Linked DNA regions of Homo sapiens: all the other regions are reported to be linked to region 1. The links are microRNA targets in miRTarBase. Many come from high-throughput screens and were not tested one by one. Region 1 holds a microRNA gene; each other region holds the end of a gene's coding sequence.

What was found. The annotated mature microRNA hsa-miR-5582-5p reads UAGGCACACUUAAAGUUAUAGC and lies in region 1 at 2,371-2,392, shown strand. An mRNA with a match to its seed (bases 2 to 7 or 8) in the 3' UTR can be bound and repressed. Matches are read on the target gene's strand: a 7mer-m8 pairs with bases 2 to 8, a 7mer-A1 pairs with bases 2 to 7 and ends in A, and an 8mer does both.
Region 2: the mRNA of R3HDM2 is a reported target of hsa-miR-5582-5p. Seed matches in the 3' UTR shown: 7mer-m8 at 856-862.
Region 3: the mRNA of LTBP2 is a reported target of hsa-miR-5582-5p. Seed matches in the 3' UTR shown: 8mer at 3,513-3,520.
Region 4: miRTarBase lists C7 as a target of hsa-miR-5582-5p. Seed matches in the 3' UTR shown: 7mer-m8 at 3,856-3,862 and 7mer-m8 at 2,270-2,276.
Region 5: the mRNA of FAM83H is a reported target of hsa-miR-5582-5p. Seed matches in the 3' UTR shown: 7mer-m8 at 728-734 and 7mer-m8 at 1,060-1,066.

Annotation. Positions count from the first base shown.
Region 1 is chr11:46,750,460-46,755,562 of GRCh38, reverse strand. It overlaps MIR5582 (microRNA 5582), which reads left to right and starts at 2,371; the gene lies at 2,371-2,438. CKAP5 (cytoskeleton associated protein 5) reads left to right here. Exons shown (of 44, transcript NM_001008938.4): 36 at 496-675; 37 at 2,066-2,253; 38 at 2,853-2,928; 39 at 4,029-4,217; 40 at 4,308-4,445; 41 at 4,952-5,035.
Region 2 is chr12:57,249,982-57,255,084 of GRCh38, reverse strand. R3HDM2 (R3H domain containing 2) reads left to right here. Exons shown (of 24, transcript NM_001394031.1): 24 at 1-1,321. The coding sequence ends at 312. It overlaps STAC3 (SH3 and cysteine rich domain 3), which reads left to right and starts at 3,898. Exons shown (of 12, transcript NM_145064.3): 1 at 3,898-4,092.
Region 3 is chr14:74,496,159-74,501,250 of GRCh38, forward strand. It overlaps LTBP2 (latent transforming growth factor beta binding protein 2), which reads right to left. Exons shown (of 36, transcript NM_000428.3): 36 at 2,025-4,871. The coding sequence ends at 4,726. ISCA2 (iron-sulfur cluster assembly 2) reads left to right here. Exons shown (of 4, transcript NM_194279.4): 4 at 1-948. Among named protein-coding and RNA genes, the nearest start is that of ISCA2, 4.9 kb to the left of the region's middle. RefSeq lists an enhancer at 3,946-4,941 and a silencer at 4,628-4,922.
Region 4 is chr5:40,981,029-40,986,114 of GRCh38, reverse strand. It overlaps C7 (complement C7), which reads right to left. Exons shown (of 18, transcript NM_000587.4): 18 at 1,472-4,723. The coding sequence ends at 4,542. Among named protein-coding and RNA genes, the nearest start is that of C7, 74 kb to the right of the region's middle.
Region 5 is chr8:143,721,253-143,726,340 of GRCh38, reverse strand. FAM83H (family with sequence similarity 83 member H) reads left to right here. Exons shown (of 5, transcript NM_198488.5): 5 at 1-2,408. The coding sequence ends at 420. It overlaps MAPK15 (mitogen-activated protein kinase 15), which reads right to left. Exons shown (of 14, transcript NM_139021.3): 11 at 4,930-5,088; 12 at 4,668-4,792; 13 at 4,461-4,589; 14 at 3,883-4,266. The coding sequence ends at 4,090. Among named protein-coding and RNA genes, the nearest start is that of MAPK15, 7.4 kb to the right of the region's middle. RefSeq lists an enhancer at 2,717-3,218.

The DNA of each region.
Region 1 (5,103 bases):
GTAAATATTTGCCGAATGACTGAATCCCTAAGGACTAGTTATTTATATTTAAATGGGGCCAGGTGCGGTGGCTCACGCCTGTAATCCCAGCACTTTGGGAAGCCAAGGTGGGTGGATCACGAGGTCAAGAGTTCGAGACCAGCCTGGCCAACATGGTGAAACCCCGTCTCTACTTAAAATACAAAAATTGGCGTGGTGGCAGGCGCCTGTAATCCTAGCTACTTAGGAGGCTGAGGCAGGAGAATCACTTGAAACCGGAAGGTGGAGGTTGCAGTGAGCCAAGATCGTGCCACTGCACACCAGCCTGGGTGAAAGCAAAATTCTCTCTCAAAATAATAAATGAATAAAATAAATAAGTAAATGGGCTTTTTTTTAAGGTAAGACTTTAGAAGTACTTTGCTAATAAATATTCTTATGGAGAAGTTTCATATAGTGTCTTCCGCTATTTTAGAAGTATGAAGCTTGGAAAATATATCTTGAAATTTTTGTTATCAGATCGATGAGGTCCTGAGACAGGAAGACAAAGCTGAAGCCATGTCCGGCCATATTGATCAGTTTCTGATAGCCACTTTTATGCAGCTAAGACTCATCTACAACACACACATGGCAGATGAGAAATTGGAGAAGGACGAGATCATCAAGTTGTATAGCTGTATCATTGGCAACATGATTTCGGTAAGGGCACCTCTGCAGAATTTCAGCTTCCCATCAATCTCTCAGCCTACAGAGGTTCAAAAGCCAGAGTCCATGCAGATGTTGCAGTGAGTCCTGTGTCACTTGGTAGAATTTTACATGCATTGTATATAGCAAGCTACTGATGGCTTCCATTGGATGTTTGGCTACACTCCATCCCACCTTACTGTTAGGATATAAAGTAACATGCTTACAGACTACCTAGCTTCTTCCGGCCAGTTTCTTCATCAGGCATGGTAGGCCATAGCTGCCTTTCCACAGATAAGTATGGTTCTATTAAAAATGCTAATTAGCCTGGTTTGATCAGTATACATTGTATACATGTGTTGAAATACCACTCTGTATTCCATAAATTTGTACAATTATTACATGTCAACTAAAAATAAAAGGGAAAAAATTTGTTAATGTTTTACCTGTAGAGCAGATTATAAGGATAATAAAGACATTCTCACTCAGATTTCAATATTCTTTCTTAAACTGGGGCTAAAAGGGTGGACTTAATGACACCAACTAGCCAGAAATTACAAATTTGGCATAACAGTAAATAATTTCACATGTAAAAACAAATACTTTGGCCAGGCACAGTGGCTCACACCTATAATCTCAGCACGTTGGGAGGCCAAGGCGGGTGGATCACAATGTCAGGAGTTCAAGATCAGCCTGGCCAAGATGGTGAAACCCCATCTCTACTAAAAATACAAAAAATTAGCCAGGCCTGGTGGCGGGCGCCTGTAATCCCAGCTACTCGGGAGGCTGAGGCAGAGAATTGCTTGAACCCAGGAGGCGGAGCTTTCAGTGAGCCGAGATCGTGCCACTGCACTCCAGTCTGGGCAACAGAGCAAGACTCTGTCTCAAAAAAAAAACAAAAAATTTCACAATTAGAAGCACACCGATTAATTTTGCCTATTACTAGAGGCTTGGGGGAGTGTGGTGATTTTGTTTTTTCTTTAATACTCTGAATTTTTACAAATATAACATAGCCGGGCGCGGTGGCTCACGCCTGTAATCCCAGCACTTCAGGAGGCCAAGGCAGGTGGATCACGAAGTCAGGAGATCGAGACCATCCTGGCTAACACGGTGAAACCCCATCTCTACTAAAAAAAAAAAATACAAAAATTAGCCCAGCGTGGTGGTGGGTGCCTGTAGTCCCAGCTACTCGGGAGACTGAGGCAGGAGAATGGCATGAACCGGGGAGGCAGAGCTTGCAGTAAGCCAAGATCACGCCACTGGCACTCCAGCCTGGGCGACAGAGGAGACTCCGTCTCAAAAAAAAAATACAACATAATTGAATATTTATCAGAATATGCCACCCACATTTCTTTACTCTCTATATTGAGTTTTACACCTCCCTGACACAAGTATGTCTGGATAGCTGTTTCAGATAGAGAGCCTTGCCCGGGAGGCCTCCACTGGAGTACTAAAAGACCTAATGCATGGCCTCATCACCTTAATGCTGGATTCTCGGATTGAAGATCTTGAGGAAGGACAACAGGTCATCCGCTCTGTGAACCTCTTGGTGGTGAAGGTTCTGGAGAAGTCAGACCAGACCAACATCCTGAGGTATATCTGTACTCTCAGCCAATAGAGCCTGGGGCATCCTCGCTTTTGTTTACACTTAGAAACCATAATGTCCGTAAGTCAACTTCCTAGGCAACCTAACAATCATAATCAACTTCCTAGGCACACTTAAAGTTATAGCTACATCAGTTATAACTATATCAGTTAAAACTTTAAGTGTGCCTAGGAAGTTGATTTATTACTCTTCTTCATCATGGACCAAAGGTATTTTAGCCTGAGACCATAGCTAAAACTAGTAAATACTTAGTTAGCCAGCCAATATCATGCATTTTCTATAATAGGACTGTAAAGTTTGTCAGTTACATTTTTCTTGTACATTTCAGGTACATTTTATTCTTTCTCAGCTACCAATGACAATGAAAAATAGAGTCACAAACCTTACACTTACCAAGTGGTGACTTAAAAGGCTTAAACAATGTTTATTTTCTTAACTGAATGTCAGGTAGTCCAGGACAATTCCTGATCCATGACCTCTCAGTTTATTAGATGAATAGAGTAATCTCACTTGCCCTTTCAACTGCTGATTCTAATTGGAATGCAGGTTTGAAACTTAATGCTGTTGTGTTGGGTTTTTCTTCCAGTGCCCTACTTGTTTTGCTCCAAGACAGCCTGCTAGCAACAGCCAGTTCTCCCAAATTCTCAGAGCTTGTTATGAAGGTGAAGTTGAAATGATTTGATCTCTTTTCTTTCAAAGATGCAATCACTTTGTTAAAAGTATGGGGAAAGAGGAATTGGAGCTAAGAAAGACATAGGCTCAAATCAACCAAGTCACACCTGAAAATATATTTTTCGTAATAAAAATATTAATAAATTTTTAAAAATTTAGCCAGGTGCAGTGGCATGCACCTATAGTAGCAGCTACTCAGGAGGCTGAGTTGAGGAGATTACTTGAACCCAGAAGTGAGCTTGATCATACCACTACACTCCAGCCTTGGCAACAGTGAGACCCCATCTCTTAAAAAATATATATATGGTTTTTTATATATATGTGTATTATATATATGTATATATGTATTATATATGTATATCTTAATATGTTATATATGTATATAATACACGTGTGTGTGTGTGTGTGTGTGTGTGTGTGTGTGTGTGTGTATATATATATATATATATATATATATATATATGAATTGGTCTTCAGTTTTTCCCTTCCTACAATTTATATTCTAAGTTCAGGCCTAAACAGTTCGTGGCCTCAAACAGTGAAAGGGAGGAAATATTTTGTAAATATTTTACTAATTCTCTGAGGATCAAAAGGAAAGAAGTTTGAAACAGATTTCATTTATTTTGGGGAAAAAGATATCTACAGCCCTATGATATTTGGTCTCTTTTGTGAAAGAGACCAAATGAACATATTTATAACATTGTAATACTGTTATTACACTGAATTAGTATCAGATATTTTGTCCCCTTGCATTAGATTTGGTTAAGCAACATGAACTACTTTACTCTCAGGAACGAAGGAAACCCAAGAGAGAATTTCTACCAGGTTAAATGATGGCCCCTAGCTCTGGGGAGTGGGAAGGAGTAGAGATGGATGATTAGATGAATGACTGGACACACTTCAGCTGGTGTCATGGTAGAAGTGATTAAAAATTTTCATGTTTTAGCAGCTGAACTTGAAAGATATGATGTGCCACATTTATAGCCCTGGCCATCTTTTAGAAGTGAGCTCAAAGCTTAGGGAAGATGAATGGTGACAAATTATCCTCATTCTTCAGTCACTCCTAACTCTTTTATTCTTTTTTCAATAGTGTCTCTGGAGAATGGTTCGACTGTTGCCTGATACCATCAATAGCATTAACCTAGACAGAATTCTTCTGGATATCCACATTTTCATGAAGGTCTTCCCCAAAGAGAAACTGAAGCAATGCAAAAGTGAATTTCCCATAAGGACCCTAAAGACCCTGCTACACACCTTATGCAAATTAAAAGGGCCCAAGGTGAGTAAGAATCGCAACTGGTCTCTGAGGGAGCTTGAGAGAAAATCATGGAAATGGCAGTGCTATCAGTCATGCATGTGTCTCCCTCAGATCCTGGACCACCTAACGATGATCGACAACAAAAACGAGTCTGAGCTGGAGGCCCATCTCTGCCGGATGATGAAGCACAGTATGGACCAGACTGGGAGCAAGTCTGATAAGGAAACAGAAAAGGGAGCATCTCGAATAGTGAGTGGCCTGACTTGAAAGATTGAGGGACATGAGGCTACACCGGAAGTGATCTTATCTAAGGTGTAGGTCACCAGGATATGCTTTCCGAAGGTCCAAGGTGAAGGCTCATGGACTGGTTGAATCAGTCTCCTGCTGTGGTGCAGTAACCATTTCCACCTTGAAATTTTAAAATCTAAACTAAGTATAACCATGTGTTTTTTGGTCCCCAAGAAAGATGCCTAAGGCATTGGTCACCAGATAAATAGCTAGTTCTGCTTAACATGGAAAGAATATGTCAGTTCCTTCTCCATCAAGTTGAGGTGGAAATCTGAGACTGGAGGCATTCAGTAACACAGAATGTTAGTGCTTCTGCTGCAAGACCTGCATCATCGGTGCATCTGTTATCTGTAGGAACATACCAATAAGGCCCAGATTTTGAGATATTTTCTGTTCATATCCAACCATCAGTTCCTAATTAATAACTCAAGTCTAACCAATTCTTCCTATGTCTTTCAACTTTTCAGGATGAAAAATCATCAAAGGCCAAAGTGAATGATTTCTTAGCTGAGATTTTTAAGAAGATTGGCTCTAAAGAAAACACTAAAGAGGTGAGAGTGAAAGGGTTAAGCAGAATAGGGGTCTGCTTTATGGTAAAGGGACACTAACATTCATCCCC
Region 2 (5,103 bases), not on the chromosome of region 1:
CTCCCTGAGGGCATCACCCGTACTGAGGCGGACAAACTCTTCACGCAGCTCGCCATGTCTGGCGCCAAGATCCAGTGGCTCAAGGATGCTCAGGGGCTGCCTGGAGGGGGTGGGGGGGACAACAGTGGGACTGCTGAGAATGGCCGCCACTCGGACCTCGCTGCCTTGTACACCATTGTGGCTGTGTTCCCCAGCCCCCTGGCTGCCCAAAATGCCTCCCTTCGTCTCAACAACTCCGTGAGTCGCTTCAAACTTCGAATGGCCAAAAAGAACTATGACCTGAGGATCCTGGAGCGAGCCAGCTCCCAATAAATGGAGGAGGGGAAAGGGACTGTCACAGAAGGAGCAAGGGCAGGGTGGAGGGGGTTGAAGGATCCTGACAGACCATGGACAGAGGCAGGAAGTAAGGAAACTGATGTTAAACTGGAACCTAAGACAGTGATGAAGATGGAAACACAGATACCTACACTGGCATTGGACTCCTTCTTGCTCCCCTGCCATGGGTCCTCTCTTTTTCCCTGGTTGACCCCCCTTGCATCACTCTTCTTCCCATCCTCTTCTTTTTTTTTTTTTTTTTTTTTTTGAGACGGAGTTTCGCTCTTGTCACCCCAGCTGGAGTGCAGTAGCACGATCTTGGCTAACTGCAACCTCCAGCTCCTGGGTTCAGGTGATTCTCCTGCCTCAGCCTCCCAAGTAGCTGGCACTACAGACACGCGCCACCATGCCCGGCTAATTTTTGTATTTTTAGTAGAGACGGAGTTTCACCATGTTGGCCAGGCTGGCCTCAAACTCCTGACCTCAGGTGATCCACCTGCCTTGGCCTTCCAGAGTGCTGGGATTACAGGCGTGAGCCACTGTGCCTGGCTTCCATCCTCTTCTATCATTTTTTTAAATCTCTTCTCCTATCATAAAATTAATTTCTCATTTTTTGGTCAGGTAGAATTGGGAAAGTCCCACACTGTCCTCCTATTACCTTAACATCCCAAGCTTCCTTTCCTTTTTTGGTCTTTATGAATATATTTATATGGACAGAATTAAGATAAACAAAATTGATTGCCCCATTCTCTCACTTCCCCATCTTGTCTTCCTAGACCCCACAGAGTTAAAACTTGGGATTCCCCTGGCCCCCCCAGAACACTTGTATATTGTTTGTTTGAGGTTCGTGCCGCAGTAACAGACACAGTATTTAATTGCACATACAGATGTTTGCTGGGTATATTCACTGTAAATTTTATTTAATCTGTTTTTTTGTTTGTTTGGGGGTTATTTGGGGGGAGGTTGGTTTTGTTTTTAAATATAAAAAAAAAAATCTGTCACTGGACATCAGTCACTGTTTCTCTGTTGCCGCCCTGGTATGGGTAAAGGGTTGGAGGCCCTGGGTAGGTATAGCCCTACAGCTGTTGGAGGTGTTTGTCGTGGGTTGGGATGGCTTTCTCTAGCATACGCACACTATTTTAACACCATTCCCTCTGTCTCATCCTCTTCCCTGTACACGGTTCTGATAGATGGCTAGATCTCTAATGGGACCATGGCTTTGGGCTCTCCCGGTTCTGCCACTGTGGTTCATCGAGCATATCACTTCTCAACTCTGGATCTGTGTCCAGATCAGTAAAATAAGAGACTTGGACTTAGTAGGTGACCTCTAGGTTTCCTTCCAGACTATTAATTCTGTGGTACTGTGTACTCATTTAGGGCCCTTGTAGTTGAGTTTTGAGATAGGGTCTTGCTCTGTCACCCAGGCTGGAGTGCAGTGGCAGATCTCAGCTGACTGCAGCCGCCTCCCGTGTTCAAGCGATTCTTGTGCCTCAGTCTCCCGAGTAGCTGGGATTACAGGCGCGATCTAGCATGCCTGGCTAATCTTTTTTTTTTTTTTTTTTGCTATTTTTGGCAGAGACAGGGTTTTACCATGTTGCCCAGGCTGGTCTTGAACTCCTGGGCTCAAGTGATCTCCCGCCTTGGCCTCCTAAAGTGCTGGGATTACAGGCATGAGCCACCACTCCCAGCCCAGCTCGTCTTCTGAAAACCCTTTAGGGATGGAGAACTTGGGCCTTTCTTTTTTTTTTTTTTTTGAGATGGAGTCTCGCCCTGTTGCCCAGGCTGGAGTGCAGTGGCGCGATATCTCGGCTCACTGCAACCTCCACCTCCCGAGTTCAAGCAGTTCTCCTGCCTCAGCCTCCTGAGTAGCTGTGCCCCATCGTGCCCAGCTAATTTTTGTATTTTTAGTTGACATGGGGTTTCACCATGTTGGCCAGGCTGGTCTCGAACTCCTGACCTTGTGATCCACCCGCCTCGGCCTTCCAAAGTGCTGTGATTACAGGCGTGAGCCACCGTGCCTGGCTGCCTTTCTTTAATCCTAAAGCTGGAGGATTGGGTTTTACCTGTCAGGGACAGAAGCAGATTTTTATTACAATGAAAGCTACAGCAACTGAACTCGCAGTGCCAAGATGCTGTATTATCCAAACATGCTCAGCAGTCCCTGTCCTATGTGGCTGAAAAAAGACGAAGAGCAGAAGTCATCTTGCCTGCAAGATGGAGCTTTTCCTTTAGAGCATCTCAAAGCAAGCCCTGTTGTTCTGCAGCCTGTCAGAGCAGGGCCATTAAAGAACCTGCAGAGTCAGAACCATCCTGCACCCCCTTTTCAAACTCCCCCCTTAAATAGAAAAAAGTAGTGGGTGAGAATGACAAAGCACGTTGCCCTGGAAATCTCTTGGGTCCAAGTAGCTGTATCCCTAACGACGATCCTACAGGAGCTTGCCTGACCCAGTCTCCAACACAGTCCTTTATTTCTTACAGATACAAGGAATAGAGCAGCACTGCATTGCCACCTCTAAATTGCTCTCCCCTGAGATGGGAGTATCTCCTCTTTCATCCATGTCACAGCCCAAAGAGTAGAAGGGTGCACCCCTGTGAGATGAGAATGGCATCTGTCTCTTTGATCCATCAGTTATATACTGAGGCATCAAAGGTGGGAGATGGAATCAGGGAATCAAAAGGGTTTAGGAAGTGTGAGGGTTGGCCATCCTACCTTTAAGAGTTTGCAGTTCTCATGAGGAAGGGGACATTACTTAGAAATGATTTAAAAAATTCCTTATGTGGCAGCTATATGCTTCTGTCCAGTGTTAACTGGCCCTTTTTAATAGCCCTGGTAATTCCCTTCAGTCTGAGGACAAAATTTTACAAGAAGGAGGGTGGGGAGATGTCTCTGGGAGCTGCTGGAGGGAATGAAGCAATACTACATATTCTTCACTTTCTTACAGGATAGCAAAGTACTCCTCCAACCACCTACAGATAAAAAGCAATCTAGCCATGCACGGTGGCTCACACCTGTAATCCTAGCACTTTGGGAGGCCAAGGCAGGCGGATCACCTGAGGTCAGGGGTTCGAGACCAGCCTGGCCAACATGGTGAAACCCCATCTGTACTAAAAATACAAAAATTACCTTGGCGTGGTGGTGGGCGCCTGTAATCCCAGCTACTTAGGAGGCTGAGGCAGGAGAATCGCTTGAACCTGGGAGGTTGCAGTGAGCCCGGATCGCTTCATTGCACTCCAGCCTGGGCAACAAGAGCAAGACTCTGTCTCAAAAAAAAAAAAAAAAAAGCCATCTAGTATGGCTGATAGGAGAGCTCTATGAGTTCAAATTAGTCTTTTTTTACCCTGTCTCAAAAAATAAATGAAAAATAAAAATAAACTCCCCTTAAATGTTAAATGAGCATGAACAGAAACTGTCCCTTCCTGAATTCAGCCATTATTCACCTGTTCGCCTTAGATGAAGAATCAAGGAACAGCAGCTCTAGGGGGTTGGGAGGAGTTAGGGTCCGGCCCTGCCCCAGACCTCTCAGTGTCCAATTTCTCTGTGTCAGCTGTGTTTCTCAGCTGTCCACTTTCCTCCAGCCCTGTCATTTCAGCCCTGACACCAAGGCAGGAGGCTAGGAGGTCTACAAATAGCGACTGGGTAGCTGGTGTGAACACAGGGGGTACTGGGGGGGCTTAGCCCCCAAGGAAGAGGACCAGTTTTTCCCCAGCACCACCATCAAGGCCTCGAGGCTCCCAGCTCCCTCTACAGCCTGTGGACTGACTTAGGGAATCCCGAACGTAAGTTACCTCTTCATCCTCTTGATTTCCACGACTGCTCACCCCAGCTGCCCTGATCTATAATCTACTCAGCTTCTTCATTTCTCTCCTTGTCTGTGAGTCTTTTGGGTTTTAGGCGTAAAATTATTATTCTACTCTAGGATGAGTTTGGATTGAAGCGGGGGGTGGGGGTGGGGGTGGGGTGAAGGGAATGAAGTAGTAAGGGAAGGAAAGGCTCATATTACCCTGAAAACTTAAAATAGCTGAGCCCTGAGGCAGGCTGGGACAGAACTAGGCACAGGGCCCCCAGGGCTCAAGAAAAAAGTAGGGGAGGACAAATGTCTCCAGTCCATCCTTCCTTGTGTGCACACGAGGACACACATTAAACCTCTTGAAGAGAGGAGATCTGGGAAGGTATGCATCACATCTCTGTTGCCCACAGATTTCCAGGAGAAACAAAGTACCTATAGGAAAATGACGTAAACCACGCAGCTTTGAACACTGTGTAAGGGCTGTAAACTATGGGGTCGCCCCTCAGGATGGAAGGATGAGTATCAGTTTGAGGAACTAATTGGGAAGCTCTTTAGTCTGTTGGGCTTTTTTTTTTTTTTTTTTTTTTTTTTTGAGACGAAGTCTTGCTCTGTCACCCAGGCTGGAGGGCAGTGGCACAATCCCGGCTCACTGCAACCTCCGCCTCCCGGGTTCAAGCGATTATCCTTCCTCAGCTTCCTGAGTGGATGGGATTACAGGCGTCCGCCACCACACCCGGCTAATTTTTATATATTTAGTAGAGATGGGGTTTCACCATGTTGGCCAGGCTAGTCTTGAACTCCTGATCTCTAGTGATCCGCCTGCCTCAGCCTCCCAAAGTGCTGGGATTACAGGCATGCACCACCACACCCGGCCATGTTAAGCTTTTTTCTAGACCTCCATGAAATCTGTTAATAAAACCTGCCAAAGGATCTGTATTTGGCCCAGTGCAGTGGCTCACGCCTGTCTCAACAATTTGGGAGGTTGAAACAGGAAGATTGC
Region 3 (5,092 bases), not on the chromosome of region 1:
TTAATACTGATGTTGGAGAAACTACAACCAAGTTGATTCTGGAAGAGTTACTGGTTAAATCCATCTTTTGCTTGGGAGCCTAGAAGTTTGTTACAGTAAAGACTTGCATTTCTGCACTGGATTGGAATTAAGGTCATTTAGTAAGAATTTACTATTTAAAAAAATGGAAATAGAGTTTAGAAAATATCTGAGACAGAAACTTAGATACATTTCCAACATGGCAAAACCTAGGACTTAGAGAAAACAAACCTATCATGCGGTTAGAGGAGAGAAGGGGACACTCAGAAACCTGAGCACATTTCTTAGAGCTGGTGGAAGGAGGCAGAAAGCAGCATACCATGGGAGCATCTGTGTGCACACATGACCAAGACAGTGCCGCCAGTACCTGCGCCTGATAGGGTTTCAGTTCAGACTACCTGTCCTTTCATCCTCCTTAAAAAGATTTTGCTACATTTTAAACATTAGAATATATTCTTTAAGAATATTTTTGTGGGTTATTTATTGATTTTGTGGTTTTAAAACTCTTGAGCACGAGCAGAACAGCTTTTGTTGCTAAATCAATCAAATTACAGTGGTGCACTAGACAGAAACAGTCCCTTAGAATGCAGCTTATATGTGAGTATCTACTGTTAATGGGAGAATTGGAATTTTATGTTTAGAAAAAGGCAGATTTGGGGCTGGGCACGGTGGCTCACGCCTGTGATCCCAGCACTTTGGGAGGCCAAAGCAGGCAGATCACCTGAGGTCAGGAGTTTGAGACCAGCCTGGGCAACATGGTGAAACCCCATCTCTACTAAAAATACAAAAATTAACTGCGTGGTGGACACCTGTAATCCCAGCTACTCGGGAGACTGAGGCAAGAGAATCACTTGAACCCAGGAGGTGGAGATTGCAGTGAGCCAAGATTGCACCACTGGACTCCAGCCTGGGTGGCAGAGTGAGACTCTGTCTCAAAAAAAAAAAAAAAAAAAAAAAAGGCGGATTTGGGAAAATCATGTTACTTCACACTGAGAAAGCTTCATTGGGAAACCAGAAGTGGCAGCAGGAAGTCTCCATTGGTGGAGACTTTATGTTGTTTTTCAAAGAGAAGGTCTCTTGGTCAATGCCCAGATCTTATTGTGGTACCATACTTGAGTTATGTGATGAGAGTGACCAAGGGTATGTAAATTATGTGTCCCATCCACTCTTAGTTTCTTTCTTTTTATTTGAGGCAGGGTCTCAATCTGTCTCCTAGGCTGGAGTGCAGAGGTGCAGCCTCTACCTCCCAGGCTCAAACAATCTTCCCACCTCAGCCCCTGCAAGTAGCTAGGACTACAGGTGCACACCACCAAGCCCAGCTACTTTTTGTATTTTTTGTAGAGATGGGGTTTCACCATGTTGCACAGGAGTCTCGAACTCCTGGGCTCAAGCAATCCTCCTGCCTCAGCCTCCCAAAGTGCCGGTATTACAGGCACGAGCCACCATGCCTGGCCCACCCATAGTTTCTTCGTATGGGAATGTTGAGTGATTACAAGGGATAGGAGGAAAGAAGTTGAGAAGTAAAAGATTAGGAAGGACTACTAAAGTAGGTGTTCAGGAAGAGACTCTTCTTTCTGTAACTTCTGAGAATCGAGCTCTGTTGTTTTGTCGTTTGTTATAAAGCATTAGAGTGCAGGGGTGGCATTTGGCAGGATCAACCTGGTATAGGGAAGTGGGCAGCACTGATCGTGGTGGTACAGCTCTCCCTTGAAATCTGGACCCAAGCTAATGTTGTGCAGCTGGCTTTGGGCAGGGCCTAACACTGTTCACTGCATGTTTTGTCTGAAAGGAAGGAATCTCTTCTATTTTTCTTCCTATCTAGCATTGATGTTTATGATCGTTCTTTTAAAATCCGTATTTTCCACTCTTCATAAAAATGCCACAGGGCTGCCTGACAAATTTGCATTAAGGAATTTTGACATAATTAGCACCTGGCTTTAGTTGTAAATTATAGTCAGATAAATATATAAAGAGAAGGAGCATTTAAGCAATCTTTGGCCAGCAACTGTATTTAAAAATATTTTATTTTTTTTGAATAGGTGATACATATGGTACAAAATTCAAAAAAATACAAAAGGAGATACAGTGAAAAGTCTCCCAATCCTGTACCTATCCACCCTGTCACCCTCCCCACAAACCACCATTGGTTCTAAGAATTTATCCTGCAGATGTAATCCCATAAATTAATGTGAAATATGCACAAGAATATTCATTACAGCATTATTTATAGCAAAAGACAGGAAACAATGGAAACGTCTGTCAGTGAGGGACTGATTAAATAAATTATGGTTTATCCATTCAATGGAATAGTATACAGCTGTAAAATGAAATGAGGCAGCTCTAATTGCAAGTATAAAAAAAAAGCAAAGTGCAGAACAGCATGCATAGTATGCTATTTGTATTTTAAACAAAGGAAATATGTATATATGCATACAATATCTCAAGGTTGGCAGGAAGGTGGAGATTGGAGTGTTGTGGGGGCAGTGGGAACAGCAGTTACGAAGGTGTAGTGCCAGCAGGATATATTTGGGGGATGGTAAGTTCTCCGATGGTGAGGTATAAGGCGGAGTGGCAAGGATGAGGTGAACAGACAACCGCTTCTCTTTCCCCATTCTTTAGACAAATAGTGTTATGTTACATGCTGTTATGCAACCCTCCCTTTTCCCCTTAATTTGTTTTGGATATCTTTCTTAAGGAATTTAGAGCCACCTTTTTTAAGGGTTCCATAGCAATTAATTGTTTCTAATCTTTAGCTATTACAAATGATGCAGTAATAACTTCTTACGTATGTCATTTTATATCTGGTGAAAATATATCTGAAGGTTAAGTTCCTAGAAGTGGAAACTACTGGATCAAAGAGTTAGTGCTTTTATAATTTTGAAGGACATTGCCATATTGTCCTCTTCAATATGTACTTCTGTCAGCTGTTATGAGAGTACCTATTTCCCACATGCTTGCCAGCTAGGAGTCTTAACAAGCTTTTTGATCTTTGCCAATCTGACAGTTTTAAAAAGGATCTCAGTATGGTTTTAAGTTGCATTTCTTTTATTATGAGTGAAAGAATATTTTTACATGCGTAAGAGTGACTTATTTTTGTCTGCTGAAAACATCTCAATTAGTATAGGGACCTAGAGCAAATTATTTAAGCTTTCTATGTCTCAGTTTCCTCACCTGTAAATTGAGAATAAACAATAGTAAGTAGGATTATTGGATAATTAAATGAAATGTATGTATGGCACTCAGCACAGTGCCTGGCACATGGCAAGCATTCAATAAGTTATGTGATGGCTAACAATCAGAGGAGCAGGTAGGACAGGGCAGATTAAATTAAGAAAGTAGCATTCACTTCCATGCTCCAGTCACATGGAGCCTTGTTCATTTACATTGCCATTCATCAGAGAAGTACGAAGTCAGAGCTTTCCTTGTCTTTTAATAGTAAAGAGTCATTTCCCATTGGAACCCATCATAGGCTATCAGCAGAGCTGGCCAGGGAGTAGGCACAGCCTCATCTCTAATATTTAGACTTAGCCAACATGGTAAAGAAATTTAATCTGATATGAAATAAAAACAACAGAAGAGACCAGATGCACATTTCTTTATTCCACCATGGTTCTGAACTCCCAGCTAGTTTGGGTTGGAGTGAGTCTCTGCTTGTAAACTCAGAGGAATGCCTGCCATCGTTTTCTGAAGGGAAAGGGCAGGGGTTTCTGAGTGGAGGGGAAAAACAACATTGGAAATCTGGCTGCTTCTGAACAAGACCACACTGGAAAATAGACTTTTTACTTTTAGCACATCAAACTGGTTTTCACAAAAGGAGATCCCAGAAGAGGTTTGTTTCCTGTAAGAAGCAGTGTTTATGTAATAGAGGTCTTTGTAGATGGGTGCTGTATCCCATGGCAGCCCTTGCTGCTGGTGCCCACAGGCTATCACTGGGCGGATTCAGCTACTGAATATTTTCTTTAGACGTATAAAGCCTTGGCTCCCCTTTCTCATCAACTCCACGTATTTTTCATCATGTCCTCTTGCTGCTTTCTCAGGCTCTTTGTTCTTCTTCATTTGTGTCTCTTACATTCAACAAGCTAATATCAGCCTTGCTTCTCTGAGTGAAGGGATCTTCTGCCACTCCTTGGGGTCAGAGAATGGGCTACAGGATGGAGGTGTGGCAAAATCAGGGCCCAGAACAGATTGGCTGAGTGGTGGTGATGGTTCTTAGGAGGGGGCTCTGGAGTCAGTCCCCAAGCTTCCCCAAATCCTTTCTTGCTCCACAGATTCTGAAGGACCTCCCTAGGGCAGATGTAGCCTCTGTCCCAGTTGTGGGATCGTCAGGATGATGGTGGATTGTGGCTGGAAAGGGGTGTCTGCAGTGTGAGGCCATGGGGCCTTGCATGCTCGCACAGCTTGGGAGGGTGGATGAGGGCCATCCTTTGGTAAGCATCCCATAGCAAGGCCAGGAAAGGTGGTGGACAGGGCCTCATGCGGTGGCTGAAGCATTAAAGCGATTGGTGGTGCTTGAGCCAAGCAAGGGCATGGAGGCAATGACCGAAGCTTACAGCCAGAGGCTAAGCTGGGAGAGATGAAAGCAGGCAAGGCTGATTGGAAACCTCTGGCCTGATGTCACGGTGTCTTCCCAGCTAGGAAATCATCCTCAAGGCCCCTGCCTGTGACTGGAGGCCATTTCCAGGTAGTTGCCACACTGACCCCTGACTGCTACTCCTTGGCAGTGCAGTGGGGGGGCCCTGCCTCAGCCACATATCCCGGGGAGCAGTGGCAGCGGTAGGAGCCCTCTGTGTTCTCGCAGTAACCATGGACACAGAGCACAGCAGGCCCGTTCAAGTCATCACACTCATTCACATCTAAGAGGAAACAAAGGAGAGTGCTGTAGGGAGCCCAGGTGCCTCTGCTGGCTGCCTCCACCTCTCTGGTTAGTAAGCCCTGGCCACTGCCCTAGAGTGAAACCCTAAGTGTGACAGCCAGAGGCTGAAGTCACTTCCCAAAACCAAGCAACTCAAGGACAAAGCAGGGGGCAGCAAGCTCATACCATGCCCAAGACCGTGCTCTCTTGTCCTTGTCTTTT
Region 4 (5,086 bases), not on the chromosome of region 1:
GCCAACATCGCATGTGCTTCGTTTTTCAGTCAATGTTTCTCTGTCTTGGACATCATTGATCTGCCGTATAACTAAGTCCCCTTCCCTGGAATTCAGTGCAAGTCTCCTCTCATAGAGATGCATGGAAATAACAGTGATAACAGAGCAGTTCCTATGTTTGTCTTTTCACAGGAAATTGTCCTCAGCCTATGAATTGAAAAGAACATTTTCATGTTTTCTTCTCTTGCCCACCTTCTCACCTCCAGCCCACCCCTTTCAAACAACGGCAGTCTTTCCATCTGGTCTTGTTAACCCCTGGCTGAGGAAGCAAATTTTTCTATGTGATTGATATCTTGAATGTAAATCTAGAGCTTTGCCTTCACAGCCTGACAGGAATAAATAAAAAGACAAATTGTAGGTGCTTTGGTTGTCACAGCAGGGGCTCCTATCATGGCATCAGCTTTCTCGTCCACAAATGTGTGAATGGCCTGAAAGTCCAAGGTAATTGAAAGGCAGGCATAAACCTGTTTTCTCAGACATTAATGGAAATTGCCTCCTACTGATGTCGCTTTTCTGGCTTAGTGTTCTGAGAAAGAAACAAGCCATTCTGTTTCTAACACAAGTATTGAGTACGCTTTAACTAGTCCATCAAGGAAGAAAAATCTCAGTGGACTGGTATGGCTACTCAGTTCTGCCAATCCCATACTAAGAATGGCCCAATTTATCTCTCTCTTTCTATCTCTCCTGCCTCCCCTTTTCTTTTCTCTTCTCTTCTTTGTCTATCCGCTCTACTTCAGAGAAGAGAAAGAGAAGTATTGGATACCCCTGAATACCCACTTCATCTTGTGCCCAAAGTATGCAATATCTTAAGTTTTCTTCAAGTTTATGATGATGACCACTTCCACTAGCTATTATGCTGTGAAAATAATCCAAATGCCTGTGGTGGGTGAGTATGTGTGTATAAGTGAGTAAGTTTGTGTGTATTATGTGTGAGTATGTGTGTATTATCTCCAAATAATCCAAATGCCTGTGGTGGGTGAGTATGTGTGTATAAGAAATGTGAATAGGAACATAAAGAAAATACAGAATAATGATAAACCATGGTGCCGTGGTTTGCATGTGTTTCCCAAAGTTCATGTGTTGGAAACTTAACCTCCAATGCACGTGTTGGGAGGCAAGCCTTCATAAGAAGTGATTAGGACATGAGGTCTCTGCTGCTATGAATGGATTGTGTTGTTGTAACGGGAATGGGTTAGTTATCATGAGGGTGCTTTTGTTATAAAAACGAGTTCAGCCCCTGCTTCCTCTTGCTCTCTCTTGCCCTTCCACGTTTTGCCATAGGATGATGCAGCATGAAGGCCCTGCCAGATGCCAGCACCATGCTCATGGACTTCCCAGCCTTCAGAACCAGCAGCCAAATAAATTTATGCTCATTATAAATTACCCAGTTGGTGATATTCTGTTATAACAGCATAAAACAGACTGAGACAGGACGGGTTCAAAAAATATTGATTAATACACATACCTTGACCGAAAGAAAAAGTGATTACTAATTGGACACATAAGTGGACACATAATAAGCCGGGCACATAAATGGACACATACTAGGCTGTTTCAGGGAATGCTGTATAAACCAGCTGCTCAGCACTTGCAGCTCTTAGCAGTTACAAAACAACTAGATGGTTCACAAGACTCATGTGAAGCTGAGATTAGCCATGATCTGCCCAGCAAAGAGGGCAACCCTCAATCAGATTAGCCAGTTACCTGGCTAGTTGCTAGGTAATCCAAAGTTCCGGGGGTCACTTGTCAGATTTCCTGCTTGGCACTCCACATCCCTACCATACCCTACCTGAATACGAAGAACCCTCCTTCTCTTTCAAGGTGATTACAAGTCATCCTGCACTGGGAAAGAAGGTTACATTAATAACAGTTTGAATGGGGCTCATTAAATCTCAGGGCTTAGAGAAGCAGCACTACTTTTGATCAATTAGGAAATACATAAGATGTCACAGGAAGGCACTTCTCAAAACGATTAGGAAATATTCTCAGGCACCTTCTCTGCCCAGGTAACTTGTAGCGTCCTCATGAGTGGTAAGCGATGATCTGTAGGATGTGCCTTGGCCTCCACATAGCTCCCTGAAGCTAGTGATGATTAATGCACCAGCCAATTTCCTTCTCTTTGTCTGTTCCTTCTGAGGGCCAAATGACTCTAATCTCAGCAATGCTTTCTGCCCTCTGCCTCCTCCAAGGCTCTATCCCCTTCTAACCCAGATGACCCTCACCTGATCTGAGGCACAGGAAAGGGCAGGAAGATGGAATTCTCACAGTCTTTATTCTTTTTCCATTTATTTTTGTGGTATAAAATCATTCCCTTAACTTTCCTCAAAGCCTCTCCATAGGTGTTCAAGAACTTATTTTGGAAGTTTCAAAACATTTTTAAAAATTTAATCTTAAAAATGACTTTCTCCTTGCTGACCTGCTGCGACAATCCTAATTCTCCACAGGCAATTGTGAATGCCTCTGTTGGACTAGAGGAAAGGTCAGCACAAGAATGTTCAGAAAAGAAAAGGAGGAAAAAAATACAGTATTTCAAGACAACACCTCTTCACGACAACATTCACTGCTCCTCTCCTTCTCCTCTCCTTGACTTCTCCTTCAATAACTCTGCTGAAATTCCTTTCTCAAACCTCTTAGTTACATCTACTCATTTCCTTTCTTTCAAACCTCAATCTCTGATGATATGTGATAATGCTGACCATATCCTCTGTATTATTTAGGAAGGGGGCATGGTGATACATAAGCGGTAGGAATCTAACTCCATACTAGCTTAAGCTAAGAGGAGAAATTATTGGAAGGATACTGAGGTATTTCCTTCCAAATGAATTACTTGTTCAACCTTTTGTCTCAGGGTCTGCATCCAGGCCTAGCATGTTCAAATGTGTCCTCCCATCCAGGGTAGAAATTAACTCTGTAATAACCGCTAACAAATGCAGTTGCAATGTCTGAATGTCATTGTTTTTAACCAATTGAAACCTGCCTCCTTGTAACTTCAACATATTATATCTGCATCTTCCCTTAGGGCACACTTTGATACAAAAAGCTAGATCTGGATCAGACATAAAACTTCAGGCAAGAACACATTAACCATTCATCATGAAAATCTTCTCTAAAATGAAACATCATACAAATGAAACAATTCTGAAGAATAGCATCTTTAATGAGTGTTCTAATCCTTGTCATCTGAAGTTTTGAAATATATTTACCAGGGTCAGAACAATACAGAGATAGTATTTGTATAATATAGCTTATTTTAAATTTCATTTAAGCCCTCTCATTTCTCCTCCCACAGCTGCTGTTTTGTTTTGATGAAAGAGAAATAAGGAATAAATAAAAGGTCAATGCTTCAAACTAATCTACCTGTGTACTCCCTGAAAACTCTGGGACTGTATCCACAGAATAGGGAAAACTATTCTCAAATGCACAGTCACTCATGCCTCAGGCATGAACTGATGTTCTTTCAAAAGAAAAAAGAACAGGGGCAAACTTCCAGTCCTATGTTTGACACATACTAAAACCCCAAAGAGAAGACTGAATTGTATTTGTTCTCAGACAAGACACCCCTGTGACCACAGCATAATGAATTCTGCTCTAACATTTTAGTGGTTCAATCTCCCGACAAGAGTAAGTATTCCAGCCAGGCGTGGTGGTTCATGTCTGTAATCCCAGCACTTTGGGAGGCCAAGGCAGGCGGATTACCTGAGGTCAGGAGTTGGAGACGAGCGTGGCCAACATGGTGAAACCCCATCTCTACTAAAAATGCAAAAATTAGCTGGGCGTGGTGGCGGGCACCTGTAATCCCAGCTGCTTGGGAAGCTGAGGCACAAGAATCGCTTGAACCCAGGAGGCGGAGGTTGCAGGGAGATGAGATCACCCCACTGCGCTCCAGCCTGGGCAACAAAGTGAGACTCTGTCTTAAAAAAATTAAAAAAAGAATAAGGAATTCCTATCTGTGGTGGTTGACTCTATAGGATGAAGTGTGAGATTACTACTCAGGATAGAAATAGTTTGTATCTGTCATTTTTGTTCAAGTCCTCTTTATATTTGGTTCCATTGAGGAAAACCACCCTCTCTAATCAGGAGATCACGTTCTTTCTGTTATCCTAGTCATTTTGTAGAGTGTGTTCTGGCCCATGGGCTGTGTCAATCATACTTAATAAAATGATAGGCCTGAATGGAGCATTCAAGTTTCTCTAGTGCAATCCTCTAATTTTACAGATTTTAAAAAACCAAGGCCCAGAGAAGGTAACACCTATTTCAAGAACACGCAGCCAGCCTGTGCAAAGGCTCATATCCTTACTGACATTAAAAAGGAGGCAAAAGAGTAATTCGATTCAGATTTGGGAGAACAAAGGATTGTGTTTATACAGATGGCTGGGAGTTGAGGAGGAAGGTAGACACTGGAGAAGAAGGAAAAGCTGTCCAGTGCCCAGTTGTGCAGATGTTTTCACTCAGCCCCAGCTGCCTGCTGGATTCCAAGCAAGCTGACCAGGGCCTCCAGGAGCCTACTGGGTTTCCGCAGCACAAGGCCTTATGCTGGTGACAGAGATGCTCTGCCCTCTGCATCTCAGAGCGCCCGCCTCACACTCAGACATCGTCTGCTCCTTGCCGTTCACTTCCACACAAATGCTAAACCCTTCTTCCTCGCACTCCGATGCTTCTCGGCAGACACATTTGCTGCTCTCAGCTGGAAAAGTAAGTGAAAGAGGCTTAATGGTACATTGTGGAGGTCGGGGAGTCAAAGAACATCACCTCCAAAGTAATAATGTGGTGATCAGAGCTGTAGAAGCTCCTGCCTGGAATGACATAATAAATTATCCCCTGGAAAAGCAGTAGGACCAGGAAATTGGGGCATTTTGCTCCACTCCAAAGAAATAGGTTTTGAGGTTGGTAGCAGGCTTTATATTGGTTAGACCACATGGGGTGGTTTTATCCAAGTCAAGAGCTCTTCAACTATCTCCTACATACATGCTGCTGTCCATATAAGCCAGCAACTGAGGTCAAATGAGAAGCCCTCAACAAAGAACCAAGTCAAGACTCAAACAAAGAG
Region 5 (5,088 bases), not on the chromosome of region 1:
AAGGCCATTCTGGAGCAGATCAGTGCCCACGGCCAGAAGCACCGTGCGGTCCCTGCCCCGAGCCCCGGCCCGACCCACAACAGCCCCGAGCTAGGCCGTCCACCGGCTGCTGGCGTCCTGGCCCCAGATATGTCCGACAAGGACAAGTGTTCAGCCATCTTCCGCTCGGACAGCTTGGGGACCCAGGGCCGGCTGAGCCGCACGCTGCCAGCCAGCGCGGAGGAGCGCGATCGGCTGCTGCGCCGCATGGAGAGCATGCGCAAGGAGAAGCGCGTGTACAGCCGCTTCGAGGTCTTCTGCAAGAAAGAGGAGGCCAGCAGCCCTGGGGCAGGGGAAGGCCCCGCGGAGGAGGGCACCAGGGACAGCAAGGTGGGCAAGTTCGTGCCCAAGATCCTGGGCACGTTCAAAAGCAAGAAGTGAGTCTTCTGGCCTGGCAACCCAGGCCAGGGTGCCCGCATCGCTGCCCCGGTCATCCAGAAGCCCCGCGGAACAGAGAGCCCTGCTCATCTGCTTGAGCAGCGGCTGTCAGGCCACGGCCGCTTGGGGCTTGGCTGAGTGCGCCAGACCTCGGCTCCACTGGAGGCTCACCTGGCAGCTGCCGTCTCTGCCCCCTGGCCTCCCCAACGCTGGGGCTGCACCCCTCGCCACCAGTGCCTTTCTCCCCTCAGCACCTTCATCTCTGCACCGTCAGCCTTGCGTGGCGCAGCGTCTGGCTCCGCCATCTCTTTGTGCCTCAGTCCCCCCCGCCCCCTTTATTTTTTTGAGACCTAGGGCTGGAGTGCAGTTGAGCGGTCTGGGCTCACTGCAACCTCTGCCTCCCGGGTTCCAGCGATTCTCCTGCCTCAGCCTCCTGAGTAGCTGGGATTACAGATGTATGCTACCACGCCCAGGTAGTTTTTGTATTTTTAGTAGAGACAGGGTTTCACTATGTTGGCCAGGCTGGTCTCCAACTCCTGGCCTCAAATGATCAGCCCGCTTCAGCCTCCCAAAGTGGGGGGATTACAGGCGTGAGCCTTGCACCCCGCTAAGTCCCCTATCCTCTTGCAAGGGTCTCGCCTCTGTGCCTCAATTCCTCATTCTCTGGGCCCTTCTCCTCCTCAGGGCCTCCTGTTCTCAGGGCCTCCCCCCTCCCCGCTCCCTCCCTCTCTCAAGGTCTCCTCCTTCCCTCCCCCCCCCCCCCCCCCGTCTCCCCCCTCCCCCGCCTGGGCTTCACTTCCTTTCCTACTTGGATTCTCCTGCTCGCTGCCTCCCAGCATCTTTTTTGGAGGCCCGTCTCTTGCTGTGGGGAAGACTGGGCTGGCTGCGGGCAGTTTGCAAGGGGTGGGTGGGGCAGGGGGGGGGGAGCTGGACCAGAAGATGCCCCTTGGAGTGGCAAGGAAGCTGGACAGGGCAGGCCTCTGGGGACGGGACACAGGGAAGCCCGAAGGGGCGCCTTGGCCAGGTCTGCCATCTCCTCCAGCGAGGCTCTGGCCAGCACTGGGTGAGAGTGGGGAGGGGGCATTGGCCTTTGCAGCACAGTAAAACATGGTCCAGACAACCTGTGGCCCCGGCCTCATGAGCACCCCCTGCACAGGCCCGGCCCAAGCCAGGCGCTAGAAGGGCTGGTTGTGGAGTGCTTATCCTTGACAGGTATGGGGCCAGGTGAGGGCAGGGGACAAGGTGCAGCTGAGGCCGAGCCCAACTAGGTCCTGGGCACCCCTGCAGGTGGGAGTGGTCCTTGTCCTCCTGGTATCCAGCAGACACCCCCCTCTCCCCACCAGCCCCATTCTCAGGTCCTTTCCTCTTTGTCACCAACACCAAGAATCTGTCCAGGGTTCTTGGCTTATCTTTTATCTCTTTTCACTCCTAGAGAGGAATTGCAATTGACTCAGAATGACACATTTTGGCACCACGTGTGTAGAAAGCCCCCACTGTTAGATGATAGCCTCGTGAAATTCATGTTTCTGTATTCTCCTATTTCTTTTCAAAAACTAATTTTTTTTTTAGTGTAATAAATCCTAAGAGGGAACTGATTTAAGAAACAAGGCCGCCAAACAAAGGCAGCAGTTCCGACTCCAGCAGCTGGGAAAGGAAGGAAAGTGACCCCACTTTCACTCCTGCACAGCCCACTGGTTACCAAAACCACCGTGCAAGTCGGGATGACAGCAGGGACTTCTGGCCAGGTGGGAAAGGTGCCTGGAAGCGGGATGCGCCTGTGCGTCTCTTGGCCATGATGTTCTTGTGGGCATGTTATTCTTGGTGCTGCCTGGGGTGTTGCTGAGCGGACAGGCTCTCCAGCTGGAGTCCATGGAGAGGCCAGAGGCTGGCGGCCCTGCCTGGGCCTTCGGAGCCTCCTGCCTGCACCCTCCACCTCTTCTAAACCATGATGTGGCACATTTTGGTGTTAATAAAACACAACACACAAAGTATTCTAGCATGTTCCCCAGTGTGTATAATCGCCCAGTTACATCCTGCAGCCTTTAACCACGTGGCCTCCCAGATTTCCCCTGTGGACCCACCACCCACCCCTGTGGGGGGCACTAAAGACCCCCCAGCTCCACTTCCAAGGCCCACCTTGGCCTCCCCAACTTCACGCTGCTCTCCTGTCCCTGTCCCCGATGCCCCCTGTGCAGGCACACTCCTGGGTGCCCACCTGCGATTCCCCACTCAGCAGCCCCACCACACACTGCCCAGCCTGAGGCCAAGCCTCCAACCCTGCAGCCCCGTGGCCTCTCTGCAGCTTCCTCTCCCACAGCCTCTCTGTCCTGCTTGTTCAGCACCCTGGGCCTGCGCCTTGGGCTTTTGAAGCTCAACAAGCACCTCCCTCGGCAGCCCCCTCAGGAAACAGCCCCTGGGCTGGGTCTCTGACTGGCTCACCGCTTCCTCGGGCCCTCCCGATCCCTCCTCCGCCTCCTCCAACCTTCTCCCAAACCCAGCCTCCCTTTCTGAGTCTCTTGCAGGTGCCTGGTCCAGCACCAGGGCAGCGCCAGCTCTCACCTTCTGCTCAGCTCCCCCACCCACATCTTGTCCTTCCCCGCCCTCCCCCATGGTGGCAATGGCTTCCACAACCCAGCAGCGCCCCTCTCCTGGCAGCCCAACACCGACCACAGCACAGGCCGCACCCTTCAAACTGTGAGCTCCTCCGGCCTATGAGCTTCCCAGACTGTGAGCCTGGCAGCCCAACTCCGCCACCGACAGCACAGGCCGCGCCCTTTAGACTGTGAGCTCCTCCAGCCTGTGAGCTTTCCAGCTGCCTCCTTGTGTTCCAACCCCAACCCATGGGCAGGTGCAGCTGAGGACACCTGGCACCCTAGGACACAGGTCTGTGCCCACAGGGCCCCTTTGATCTTTGCAGCCCTGCACAGCCCTGGCCTGAACTCACACCAGGGACCTTGCCTGGGGGTGACAAGAGGAGGTAACCCTGACCTCGCGAGATGTCTGTCTCCCACCCTCACCTACGGAGACCTGAAGACAGATCAGGTGCAGTGGCCATACTAGGGGGCGCAGGCTGCAGTCCCTGACAGCAGGGGGAGGGGTGTCCCCCTTCTCTCTCCCCTTCTCTCCTCTGGCTCAGAGTCACAAACATGGCCAGGGGGTGACCCTACATCCCTACCCCACAGGACCACCCTGGGGGGCAGCCTGGACCCTGAAGCCACAGCAGGTAAGGAAATGATGGACAAAGAACAAGAAGCTGCCCCAGGCAAACCTGGAGGGAAAAGCCCAGTGCTGGATGTGCAGTGGGCAGGGCCTCTAGGGGGCGGCACTGGGCTCTGGGGTGGAGGTTTCAGGACGGGGGTGGGGTGGGGTCCTCAGAGGAGTGGAGGCTTCAGGAAAGGGGCCGGGGCCCCCAGCTAGTGGATGCTGTGACCTCAGAGGGGAGGGGAGGAACGATGGCTGCTTAGGTTGGGGGCAGACATGACTTTATTGGAGGAAGTCAGTGGGGCGGGGGCAGGGCCCTCATCTGCTCCCCCGAGGAGACCCGGGCAAGCTCCCTGGAACTTCAACGGGCCAGGCAAAGCAGGGAGGGCTAAGGGGTGCAGGAGACTGGAGAGGGGTCTGGGGAAGGGGCTGGGGCAGGAACAGAGGGCCAGGTGAAGGGAGTAGGGCGGCTCACACATGGTGCCCCTCCAGCAGGGGCAGGTGGCCCAGTGCCGAGTGGCAGACAGTCCCGTAGGCTTGGGAGTAGCCTCCAAGCAAAGCCCTGGCACCCCCCTGGGCACCCTGCAAGGCAGAGGTGCTGAACATCCTCCGGCCGGGCCGGGCCTCCGGAGGAAGCCGGGGAGGGACCTGTGTACAGTTGAGGGTCACATAAAGGGGCCATCAGAGGGGGTGCAGTGGAGGGGAGGCCTTGAGGTCCTCGAGAGATTTGAACTGGACATTGGAGGGGCAATGGGAAGCATGGGGAAGGGAGGGAAAAGCAGGGGGGAAGGGGAAAGGGGAAAGGAGGATGAGGGGACGGGGGCAGACTGGGCCGGGCTTACCTGTTGTACGCTGGCCACCCTCACCCCACCGCCCCGGTTCCAGTCACCCCGGATCAGGGCCTGGTTGGCCACCTGAGCCGCAGCCTGGGAGGTCAGGGAGGGCGCAGCTCCCCTCCCGCTTGGCTTCACCTGGGAAGGGCCATGTCACAGGGTCACTGAAAGGTGCAGAGGAGGGGTCCCTCCTGTGCCCGCCCCACCATGACTTACCAGCGAGAGTGTCAAGGGGGGCGCTTCCTTCGCCCCAGGGGGCCTTTCCCCATTCCCTAGGAGAGCAGTTTGGAGCAGGGGAGCGGAGTTCTGCCTGGGAACGTTCTTGGCTGCACGGGGGGACTCTGTGGGGTCAGTGGGTCAACCCCGGGGTCAGTGGGTCAACCCCAGGGTCAGGAACCGAATGCTGCGCATAGTTGGCAGCACAGGCAGAAGGGGCCCGGGCCGTGCTCCGCGTGGGCGGCCAGCAAAGATCACACACCGTGCTCGGCAGGGTCATGGCCTGGGCTGCTCTGGGGCCTGGGTCTGGGACCCTGCACAGGTGTCCTAGAAGGCAGCTGAGGGTCGGCTCTGGGTTTGTGCAGGTGTGCCTGGCTTGGGGAGACACCCTCCGGGCCCTTCTCTCTCGAGGTGCCGCTGC